Regions from separate parts of the Homo sapiens genome. Here region 2 is linked to region 1. Evidence: fine-mapped expression QTL. Tissue or cell type: whole blood. Region 1 holds a variant in brackets; the other region holds the start of a gene. All regions are shown on one strand. Distances are from middle to middle.

Region 1 (5,152 bases):
TGATGCATGTTAAGTGTATGGAGAATAGGTGTGTTCCCCCAGCTCTCTTTCCCTCTCTGCTTGCCTCCTGGAGAGGCCCCAGAAGCCATGGAAACTGACAGATCCTCAAGCTGGAAGAAACCTGCTTCCCTGAATCAGTATATAGAAGGCTGCTTACTGAGCATGCGTCTACGACTACAAGCAAGAAATAAATTTTATTTGTGAAAAGCCATTAAGATTTTAAGTGTTTATAATTTATGGCAGCTAGCACTACCCTAACAAATACCCTCTGGGATAATATATTATTCTCTGGGAATCACCTCTAGATCGGGGTAGGCAAACCTTTTCTATAAAGGGCCATATACTAAGTATTTTAGGCTTTGTGGGACATATATGAATTCTGTTGCACATGCTTTCTTCTTTTAAATGACCCTTTAAAAAGAAAAAGGTAAAAGCTATTCTGGTAGGGCGCAGTGGCTCACGCCTGTAATCCCAGCACTTTGGGAGGATGAGGCAGGCGGATCATAAGGTCAGGATATCGAGACCATCCTGGCTAACATGGTGAAACCCGGTCTCTACTAAAAATACAAAAAATTAGCCGGGTGTGGTGGCGGGCGCCTGTAGTCCCAGCTACTCAGGAGGCTGAGGCAGAAGAATGGCATGAACCCGGGAGGCGGAGCTTGCAGTGAGCGGAGATTGCGCCACTGCACTCCAGCCTGAGTGACAGAGCAAGACTCCGTCTCAAAAAAAAAAAAAAAGGTAAAAGCTATTCTTTGCTCATAGGCCATACAAAACAGGTGATAGGCCACAGTTTGCTAACCAATAATCTAGACAGTTCTATGTAAAATTAAGCAGCACAAATTTGTGATATTGCATAGAGGTGATAATTGGGAGCCTAAACATTAATAATGATAAAAACTAACATTTATGAACTGTTTAGCATGTGGCAGATATTACTCTAGGCATGTGGCAGATATTACTCTAGGCACCTTAACTGTATGTGTTCATTTGATCCTCCCAAGTACCCAGTAAGGTAATTTGTCAGTTGGTAGTTTGGAACCAGGATTAGAAGCTGGCAGTCTGGTGTAAAGCCGAAGTTCTTAACCACTATACTATGCTGAATGCTGATGTTCCATTTCCTTCTTCTAAATCAGTAATTCAGGAGCATTTAGGGAAGAAGCAAACAGCTTCCTAAATTTCTATAGCTCCATAATGGTAATACAAAAAGGTCTTACTATATATCGGATTAACAAAAATGCAATTCATTTCAGATGCCCACCTAAAAACTTCAGTTTTAAAAGTATCAAAAATAAAATTTTGGCATGTAAAGATGCAAACTTCAGTTATTTTCCTGATGGCATCAAAACAAGGTATCGTATAAATGCCCTTTTGCTGAAAGTTTTATCTTTTAGAGCAGTGCTTTCAAACTTCAGCCTTAGACTGTTGATAATCATCCAGAGACCTTGTGAAAACACAGATTTCTGCCCACCAACCCTACTCTCTCTATGTCCAGGTTTGGATTTGGGAGGTTTGGCATAGGGTCCAAGAATCTGCATTTCTAACAAGCTCTCAGGTGAGGGTGACACTACTGATGTGTGGAATGCATTTTGAGTGGCACTGCTGTAGTGCTTTCCTTTCGACCTCCAATAAGTTCATTCATATTATTGTGACATTAAAAAAAATACCATTTTACGGCCGGGCACGGTGGCTCACGCCTGTAATCCCAGCACTTCGGGAGGCCGAGGCAGGCAAATCACAAGGTCGGGAGTTCAAGACCAGCCTGACCAACACGGTGAAACCCCGTCTCTACTAGAAATACAAAAATTAGCTGGGCGTGGTGGCGGGCGCCTGTAATCTCAGCTACTCAGGAGGCTGAGGCAGCAGAATGGCTTCAACCCGGGAGGCGGAGTCGGAGGTTGCAGTGAGCCGAGACTGTGCCGCTGCACTCCAGCCCGGACGACAGTGCGAGACTCTGTCTCAAAAACAAAAAACAAAAAACAAAAACAAAAAAAACCATTTTAAGTCTAGAAAACATAAAACTGGAGGTTACAAGGCTTGACAACAAATAGAGGGAAACATCAAGACTTCTACAAGACTCAGACAAAGAACTAGCAATGCCTTCACTATGGAAGGCATAAAAAGGTTATAACATTTTTAGTTTTGTTGAAATAAATTAGCTAATGCTAAAGATAACCTGACTTGTAATATGAAGGACTAGAACTTAGTGACTTCAAAGATTTTCACCCCTTTGAAATTTTATGATCCTATTAAGTGAACATACAAAAATAAAATAAAAACTACCTAAAGAAAATACAGCTCCCAAATGTTAAGAAAAGATGGACAAGAAGGAAAGTTTGAAGAGCATGTAAAAGACATTCAGACATAAACTCGCAGTACAACACTTTAGAGGCTCTCCTACCTGGCTTCTACATAGCGTC[C/T]AGTAATCAGCAGTATACCTCTAAGTGCAATAAAAGTATCCCTTCCCCAGCAGCGGAAAATACCAGAAGAAAAATGAGGTAAGCCTAACAAAAAAAACACAACAAAGTAATATGTTAATCATAATAATACACACAAACCTATGAACTCCATTACTATAGAACAGTTACTCTAAACCTGGGGTACAAGGCAGGCACCTGCAAATCCTCTAAAACCCTCTAAAATTATTTGCAAAATGTATGTCTATACTTATGTTAACTTCTGTCAAATGAGATTCCATTATCTTGTCAGATTCCTAAAGGAACCTATGACCTAAAGAAGATTAAGAACCAGAGCTATAGAGAGATACTTATCTAAATTGAGGTGTGAATACACAGATAAACTTTTCTTCTTTCTGAGAGAGGGTCTGGCTCTGTTGTCCAGGCTGGAGTGCAGTGGCACAGTCTTGCGTCACTGTAACCTCCACCTCCCAGGCTCAAGCCATCCTCCCACCTCAGCCTCCCAAGTAGCTGAGACTACAGGTAGACACCACCATGCCTGGCTAGTTTTTGTATTTTTTGTAGAGAATGAGGTTTTGCCAGGTTGCCTAGGCTGGTCTTGAACTCCTGAGCTCAAGTGATCTGCCCAACTTGCTTTCCCAAAGTGCTAGGATTACAGGCAGGAGCCACTGTACCTGGCCAAACTTTCTTTTATAAATTAAATCTAAAGAGTAAAATCAGAGATCAAATATTTAACACATAAACACTAAATATTAATTATATATTTAAAAAGACTCTACCTTGAACTTAAGGACAATAAATAAACCTAAACATGAAATTATTACCTTAATGATACCTAATTAAGTATATGGAGTCAACATTTGAGCACTTGAGTCAACATTATCAAATTTCCCACTAATTTAAAACAACTTAAAAGTGTTATATTCTGTACACAATATGTACAATTTTACTTGTCACTTCAAGTTATCTGGCACATTAAATCCTTCATTCTAGGTAATTGGAGGTTTTATATACAAGATAAAATAGTATGATTAATGGTGCAATCTAAAATTTTACTTAAAGATTGAGTTTGGTTTCTTATAAAACAGTAAGGTCAGGAATTCGAGACCATCCTGGCCAACATGGTGAAACCCCATCTCCACTAAAAATACAAAAAATTAGCCAGGCGTGGTAGTGGGTGCCTGTAATCCCAGCTGCTTGGGTGGCTGAGGCAGGAGAATTGCTTGAACCCAGGAAGCGGAGGTTGCAGTGAGCCGAGATCACGCTATTGTACTCCAGCCTGGGCAAAAAGAGCGAAACTCTGTCTCAAAAGAAAAAAAATTATGCCAAAGCATAAATATAACACATATTTTGGTTAGGGGAAACTGAGGACAAATAAAATATACACAGCATTCACTTATAACTATCTTAAAAGCACTTAACGCTATCTGAAAATTATCTTGTTTGCTATCTGTTGAATGCATATATCTTCCCAGTAGGAAATAAGACCTATGAGTAGAAACCTCATCTACCTTGTTCACCAACAAGTATGTATTCATTGAAAATTGTAACTGTATATAATATATACCTATAAATATTTGATGACTGAAATAAAAAACAAATATTAAAATGTAGATCGAAAAGTGAAAGAATTTGACTAAGATAAAAGAAAGTTTTGGCAATTCCTGAGTGTACTTCACAATTTAAGTTTCTGTTTATTGGGAATTAGATGTTAGTTTCTTCCATTAAGAAAGATAAGAATTAGACCTTTTTCCTACCTATGTTGTCTCCAAAATGACGGTACAAAATTTCCCCAAATACACTGTGTATTATTTATTTATGATTAATATGGTTTATATATGGTTGATATATACATGATATTAATTTTGATGATAGTGATGACAGCAGCTAACATATATATAGCACTCTGTGCCATACACACTTCCTGGTACTCTGACCCATTTAATTCCTTGTATGAAACATGAATACAGGTAGATTCAAAGGTGAGTCTGAATCGGTATATCCAAAAATATATGCGGTCTGTCTTTGTGAAAAAGTCAAAACTATAAAATCTCTAGCACTATGTATGGAAATGTTTGTATTAACTTTTTGACCTCTAAGAGTACACAACTAATAGATTCCATATCTTCTAAGTGATTTCTAATTTGTCAATTATTAGAACAGGCTACAAATTTTTTTTTTTTTTTGAGACAGGGTCTCCTCTGTCACCCAGGCTGCAGTGCAGTGGTGTGATCATAGCTCACTGCAGCCTCAAACTCCTTGGCTCAAGGGATCCTCCTGCCCCAGCCTCCTGAGTAGCTAGGACTACAGGTACATACCACCATGCCTGGCTAATTTTTAATTTTTTTTTTTGGTAAAGATGGGGTCTTGCTATGTTGTTCAGGCTGGTCTTGAACTCCCTGCCCCAAACGATCCTCCTGCCTCAGCCTTCCAAAGTGTTGGGATTACAGGTATGAACCATTGTTTTTAATTGCTGTTGTTGCAATACTATAACCAAAGGAAGACATCCCCAATCAGTTTAAAATGAACCCCAAAAAACCTATCTGCAAATCTGAATACAGTCCTATTTTTTACAAGTATGGAATAGGCAAAACATTCCCTTGGGATGCTAGGAGCAAATATCACACTTCTATTTGTATTTGTTTATCAACTTAATTTTTTAGTTTTTATTTGTTTTATATCGTACCTGAGAAGTATGTCAGATGTAACAGTTTATATCAGTATATCGTTTAAAGTGT
Region 2 (5,152 bases), 46 kb after region 1:
CATCTATATTCAGCCATACAGAATAGACAGGCAATCAGAGATATTTGGAAAGAAACTGCAAGCTTAAAAAGAGACTGCAGGAAAAGAGAAGAAATCATCAAAGAATATAAGGTTTCTACCCTGGGAACTATAAAAATGGAGATGCCACGAAATAAACAGGGAAGCTGAGAAATAAAGGATCGAGAATGGGCAGGGGATATTTTTGGACATGCTAGATTTAAGCATATCCAAGTTGAGCTATCCTAATACTATTCTATTGCATAATATCAGGTTGAAGCCAAGGTCCAGGGTGGGAATACATGGAGTGATTCATATCAATGCCTTATATTTATTTAGGGCTTTATCACAAAAAATTCATGTATTATTAATTTTGAGTCTCAAAACCTAGAAAGGTAGAAGAACAGAAATTACCACTTTCATCTCACCAATAAATAAATTAATGCTCAGAATTGGGGCCATGCCCGGTGGCTTATGCTTGTAATCCCAGTACTTTCAGAGGCCAAAGAGGGAGGGTTGCTTGAGTCCAGGAGTTCAATATCAACCTGGGCAACATAGTGAGACCCAGTTTCTACAAAAAAAAAAAAAAAAAAAATTAGCGGGGCATAGTGATGTATGCCTGCAGTCCCAGCTACTTGGGAGGCTGAGGCAGGAGAACTGCTTGAGCCCAGGAAGTTGAGGCAGCACTGAGCCATGATCATGCCACAACACTCAGCTTGGGCAACAGAGTAAGACCCTGTCTCAGAAAAAGAGAAAAGGAAAAAAAAAAAAAAAAAAAAAGAAATGAATGCTCAGAATTAATGTAACTTGCCCCAAGTCAGCTTGTTAGCAGCAGAGCCAGGAGAATTCTGGCTCTAGATCTACCCGTCATCAAATGCTGAAAGCTTCCAAGAAGAAGAAAGCTCAAGGCTTTTCCTCCAAAAGTAGTCATTAGCACAGAGGCAACAGTTGAGGCCATGAGACTGTGTAACTAATTCTTTGAAGGAGAACAGAAAAAGAATTCCTAGCAGATACCCATAATTAATTAAAAAGTGAAAGGAAGAGAGCCTAGTAAGAGACACCAAGTTGACAAGAATATGCAACAGGGGAGGGGGAAAAAAAAATCAAAACCAGAAAAGTGCAGAGTCAGGAAAGCCAAAAATGGAGTAGGTACTCAGTGATTTTAAATGCCAAAGTTGGAAAAAGGCGCGGATTTGGCATGAAGATATCACATTGTATGTGTGAAATTTTTTTCAAAAATTTAATTCTTAAAACATTAGCGAAATTTAAAAATTCCTTTGAAATGTTTATGACTAGCAACATCCATTTGGTACATTAATAAGGGGGACTGGATTTTTCATATATTACACTTCTTCAATGTTGAAAAATTACAAAGGCTAAGAAAATAAAACATCTATTAACTAGCCTTGTAGAAAAGTAATTTGATCTTTTAAATACAGATCAACTATATATAGTTCAACATAACCAGATGAGTTATTGCACTTTTTATTTGCTAAGAAAATATTTTCAGCTTTTACCTACTCCACATTTGAGAAGTTTTTGATATACATAAACAATAGTTTACTATACTTTTTGCTGCAATCTATTTTGTCAATTCAAAGGTTCAACAAAGGAAAAGAGACAGTTATACAAAGGCAAAACTACATGCATACCCAAAGCAAAATTACATATGAAGTAATTTACCAAGTTTTAATAGTAAATGTTATTAGAAATAATATGGGCAATCTTCTGATCATATATTTAACTTCAATCTTAAGTGGGAATTAGTACGCAGAGAAAAGAGAACTATTTTATCCTTATCCTAACACGAGGGATATAAAATATTTTTAATTCAAATCAACATTAATTAGTGATATATGGAGAACACAGCACCATCTTTGCACAAATCAAGTTTTAGACCCTTGGAAATAATATTTATCTTAGAGCTTTAAAACATTTAACAGGACTGCCAATGAATTAAAAGTTTAAAAGACGCAAATGAGCAAATCAAAACAACTTGCTACTGACCTTGTTCAAGTCTGAAGAGGGTCTTTTCCAGTTTCTCCATTTCGTTCAGAAGTAAAATTCGAATCTGTTTACTGTGTCCCATTTTGGCTTCTAGAGGATTTGAAATCTTTCATAAGAATTAAAAGAACTCCACAGTCGAATGAGTTACCCCTATGAAACAAAAAGGAGTTAAAATATCGAAAATAACTATTGCCTTAAACTCTCCAGAGCTGACAGCGGCACTTACATGTTCGAAGTGTGTTTTATGCCTAGCAGAGCAATGAAAGAGAATGAATCTTATAACTATTAAGATTCGAGAAGGCAAATTAATAGTTGTTTCCTGCCTTTGAGCACAACGAATAAGACCGAAATAAAAATGCTGTATTACAGATTCTTACAATTAAAAAATTAAAAACCTAGACCATTCTCAGAGAAAAGCAATACACTTAGGAAAGCCTGAAGTCAGGGGGACATTCCCAGCCCCAAGCCACAGGGCTCTGGAGACTCCGAATGGCACTTCTGCTTACAAGAGATTAGTCTGCTCAAAGATAACAGGTGGGCAATCTCCCCATTCCCAAATTCGGGTCGCCAGCCACCAATGGGGAGATGAGAACAGAGGGAAGCAGTTGTTGCCTCTGGAATAGCTGCCGTAGACAGAAGATGTACAGAGCGAGCTATAGATAGAAAGAATGCGTTTCCCCGCGAGGCCAGCGGCATTCCTAGCACTTACGCCGAGGGAGTTATACGTGCGGCTTCTGGGGCACTGCAGGACCCGCGACTCTGGTGCTACGGTCGGGGGGAGGGGACGGGGAGAAACAGAAGGGGAAGGGCTGGCTGCCCAGCCTCGCACAGAAGCCGCAGCCCAAGGAGGGCCGGGCGCCGTGAAGGGCAAAGGGAGGGGCGGCGAGCGACCGGGGCAGCGCCGAGGCAGCTGGGTGAGAAGCAGGCAGAGTCTCAGCGACTTCGCCTCGCGCGGGTTCCTGGGCGCACCCGGTACCCAACCTGGCCGTGCGCGCACTCGCCCCAGGTGGGAGCGGACCGTACCTCTGGCCCACTTCCGGGAGGCTCGACCCGCCCGCCCCGACCGCTAGTCTCGCGAGAGCGTGGGCACCGCACCGTCTCAGTCGGCTCCGGGCCGGGGGACCTGGAGCCTGCTGCGGCTGAGGCCGGGAGCGGCGCTTTCTCCTTGCCCTGGGGAAGGTGCACCGGCCAAGGCGCGGCCTTCCTTTAACAGCCTGCGAGCTCACAGTTGCACATTAAAATCCCGCGGTACCGGCTGCGAGCTAGGTTGAGCTGCACAGTAGGATCTTTTGCTGGGAAGGGCTGAATGGTGAGGGGCAAACGACCTGGCTTCTGGTGTCTTTTGTGCCACCACGTGTTTTGTTTCTTTGTTTTGATAATTTTTACTTGGCCTAAGTTCTCAGAGTCCTGATTTCTAAGTGTCTAAAATAAGGGGCCTGGCTACAGCCTTGACATTCCAGCCAACACGTGTCCATCACTTCTAGTGCTAACAGACAGGACACATGTTCCTGAATGCAGACCCAGTAGGTAAGGTGTGGCCAGTCTGCAAACCATCGAGAGTGCAAACACCACTGATACTTAACGGTGTCCGGGTGTACCTCATGTACACTAGATAGACCCGGAGATCGTCTGAGATTAAGCTGCACTTATGTTAGGCCAGTAACTCAGAACTTTTTGCAGATGCTTAAGGAGATTTAATGCCTGAGGGTAAAGGAAAACCCATCTTCCAGGGCTTTTGGAGGGCTCCTAATGGTTATGAGAAAATGGACAGAAGATTTGGTTAACTAAGACTTGTGGCGTGTGGAGAAGATTCTTGCATTCTTTATTGTGGAATGACTGTAGGTCCAAAGAGGATATAAGTTAAAAAAAAAAACCCCATACTGAAGTATTTGTTTATTTCTGTAGATTTCTGAGAATGGCTAGTTGCAAATGGTCCGTAACTGACTTTGGGAACCCACAGCTCATTTTCTGGCCCCTACTATTTGCCAGGCACATAAGGTGCTGGGAATGCAGCAATAAAACAGTCACTGCCCTCAAGGAACTCCTACATTTTATTGGTGGGAGACAGATAAATTAAATAAATTATACAGGATATAATATATCCTATATAATAAGAAGGATATGTTATATCCTATATATAATAGGAAGGGGGAAGTGTGGAAGAGTAAGCAGAGAGAGGTTTGCATTTCTAAATATAACGTTCAGTAAAGTGATGCCAAACTGCGAGAAAGAAGAAGTCTAAGGTAGAGGGTTACATGTAGAGGTATAGGAAGTACAAAGGCCATGAGGCAGGAGCATACTTGGTGAACCGAAGAAGATCACCATAGCTGAGTGAAGAAGAGAGTGGTAAGAGATTAGGACAGACAGATGGGGCAGGAGAAGGGATCAGGAGCACAGACGGGTGACCAGATCTTTTAAGGCTTTGTAGGCCATTGCAAGGACTTGGGCTTTTAAACTTTGGAAAAAAAGCCATGGAGATTTTGAACAGAGGAGTGACATAATCTGATTGACCTTTTAAAAGGATCGCTCCGCAACTTTATGGGAAATAGTTGAATAAACTGTAGAGTGTAGCAAGGAAGGAAGCAAGGAGACCAGTTAGAAAGCTATTTTAGTTATTCAAGCAAGAGAAAGTGACTTGTGTGTGTTTTCTCTGTGTCGGGGGGTTGGGGGTGATGGGGGGGAGGTGGTATAGCAGGTGGTGTAGTTGCTGAATTCTGGACTATTTTGAAGATAGAACCTACAGGATTGGTGGAGAAAGGAGTCAAGGATGACTCCAAGGTTTTTGGCCTGAATGAGCAGAAAGCACTGTCCAATAGAAATATTAAGTGCCACATAGGTCATTTAAAATTTTCAAGTAGCCACATTAAAAAAACTTTTTTAAATACAAAAATTAGCCAGGCATGGTGGCACATGCCTGTAGTCCCAACTACTGTGGAGGCTGAGGCAGGAGAATCGCTTCAACCTGGGAGGTGGAAGTTGCAGTGAACCCAGATCATGTCACTGCACTTCAGCCTGGGTGACAGAGCGAGACTGTCTCAAAAAAAAAAAAAAAAAAAAAAGAAAAGAAAAGAAAGTTTTGAAAAAGGTAATATTAATTTTAGCAATATAATTTACTTAATATATCCAAGGCATCATTTCAACATATAAC

What was found. PIP is the estimated chance that this variant, and not a neighbour inherited with it, causes the effect.
Region 2: it holds the start of AGL, and the variant in region 1 is fine-mapped to the expression of AGL in whole blood (INTERVAL, PIP 0.91).

What each region holds. Positions count from the first base shown.
Region 1 is chr1:99,893,635-99,898,786 of GRCh38, reverse strand. It overlaps AGL (amylo-alpha-1,6-glucosidase and 4-alpha-glucanotransferase), which reads right to left. Exons shown (of 34, transcript NM_000642.3): 25 at 2,399-2,501. Among named protein-coding and RNA genes, the nearest start is that of AGL, 46 kb to the right of the region's middle. The variant C/T (reference allele first, on the strand shown) is at 2,418.
Region 2 is chr1:99,847,977-99,853,128 of GRCh38, reverse strand. It overlaps AGL (amylo-alpha-1,6-glucosidase and 4-alpha-glucanotransferase), which reads right to left and starts at 2,768. Exons shown (of 34, transcript NM_000642.3): 1 at 2,714-2,768; 2 at 2,005-2,154. The coding sequence starts at 2,086. RefSeq lists enhancers at 1,674-2,647, 3,298-3,447, 2,648-3,622 and a silencer at 2,798-3,117.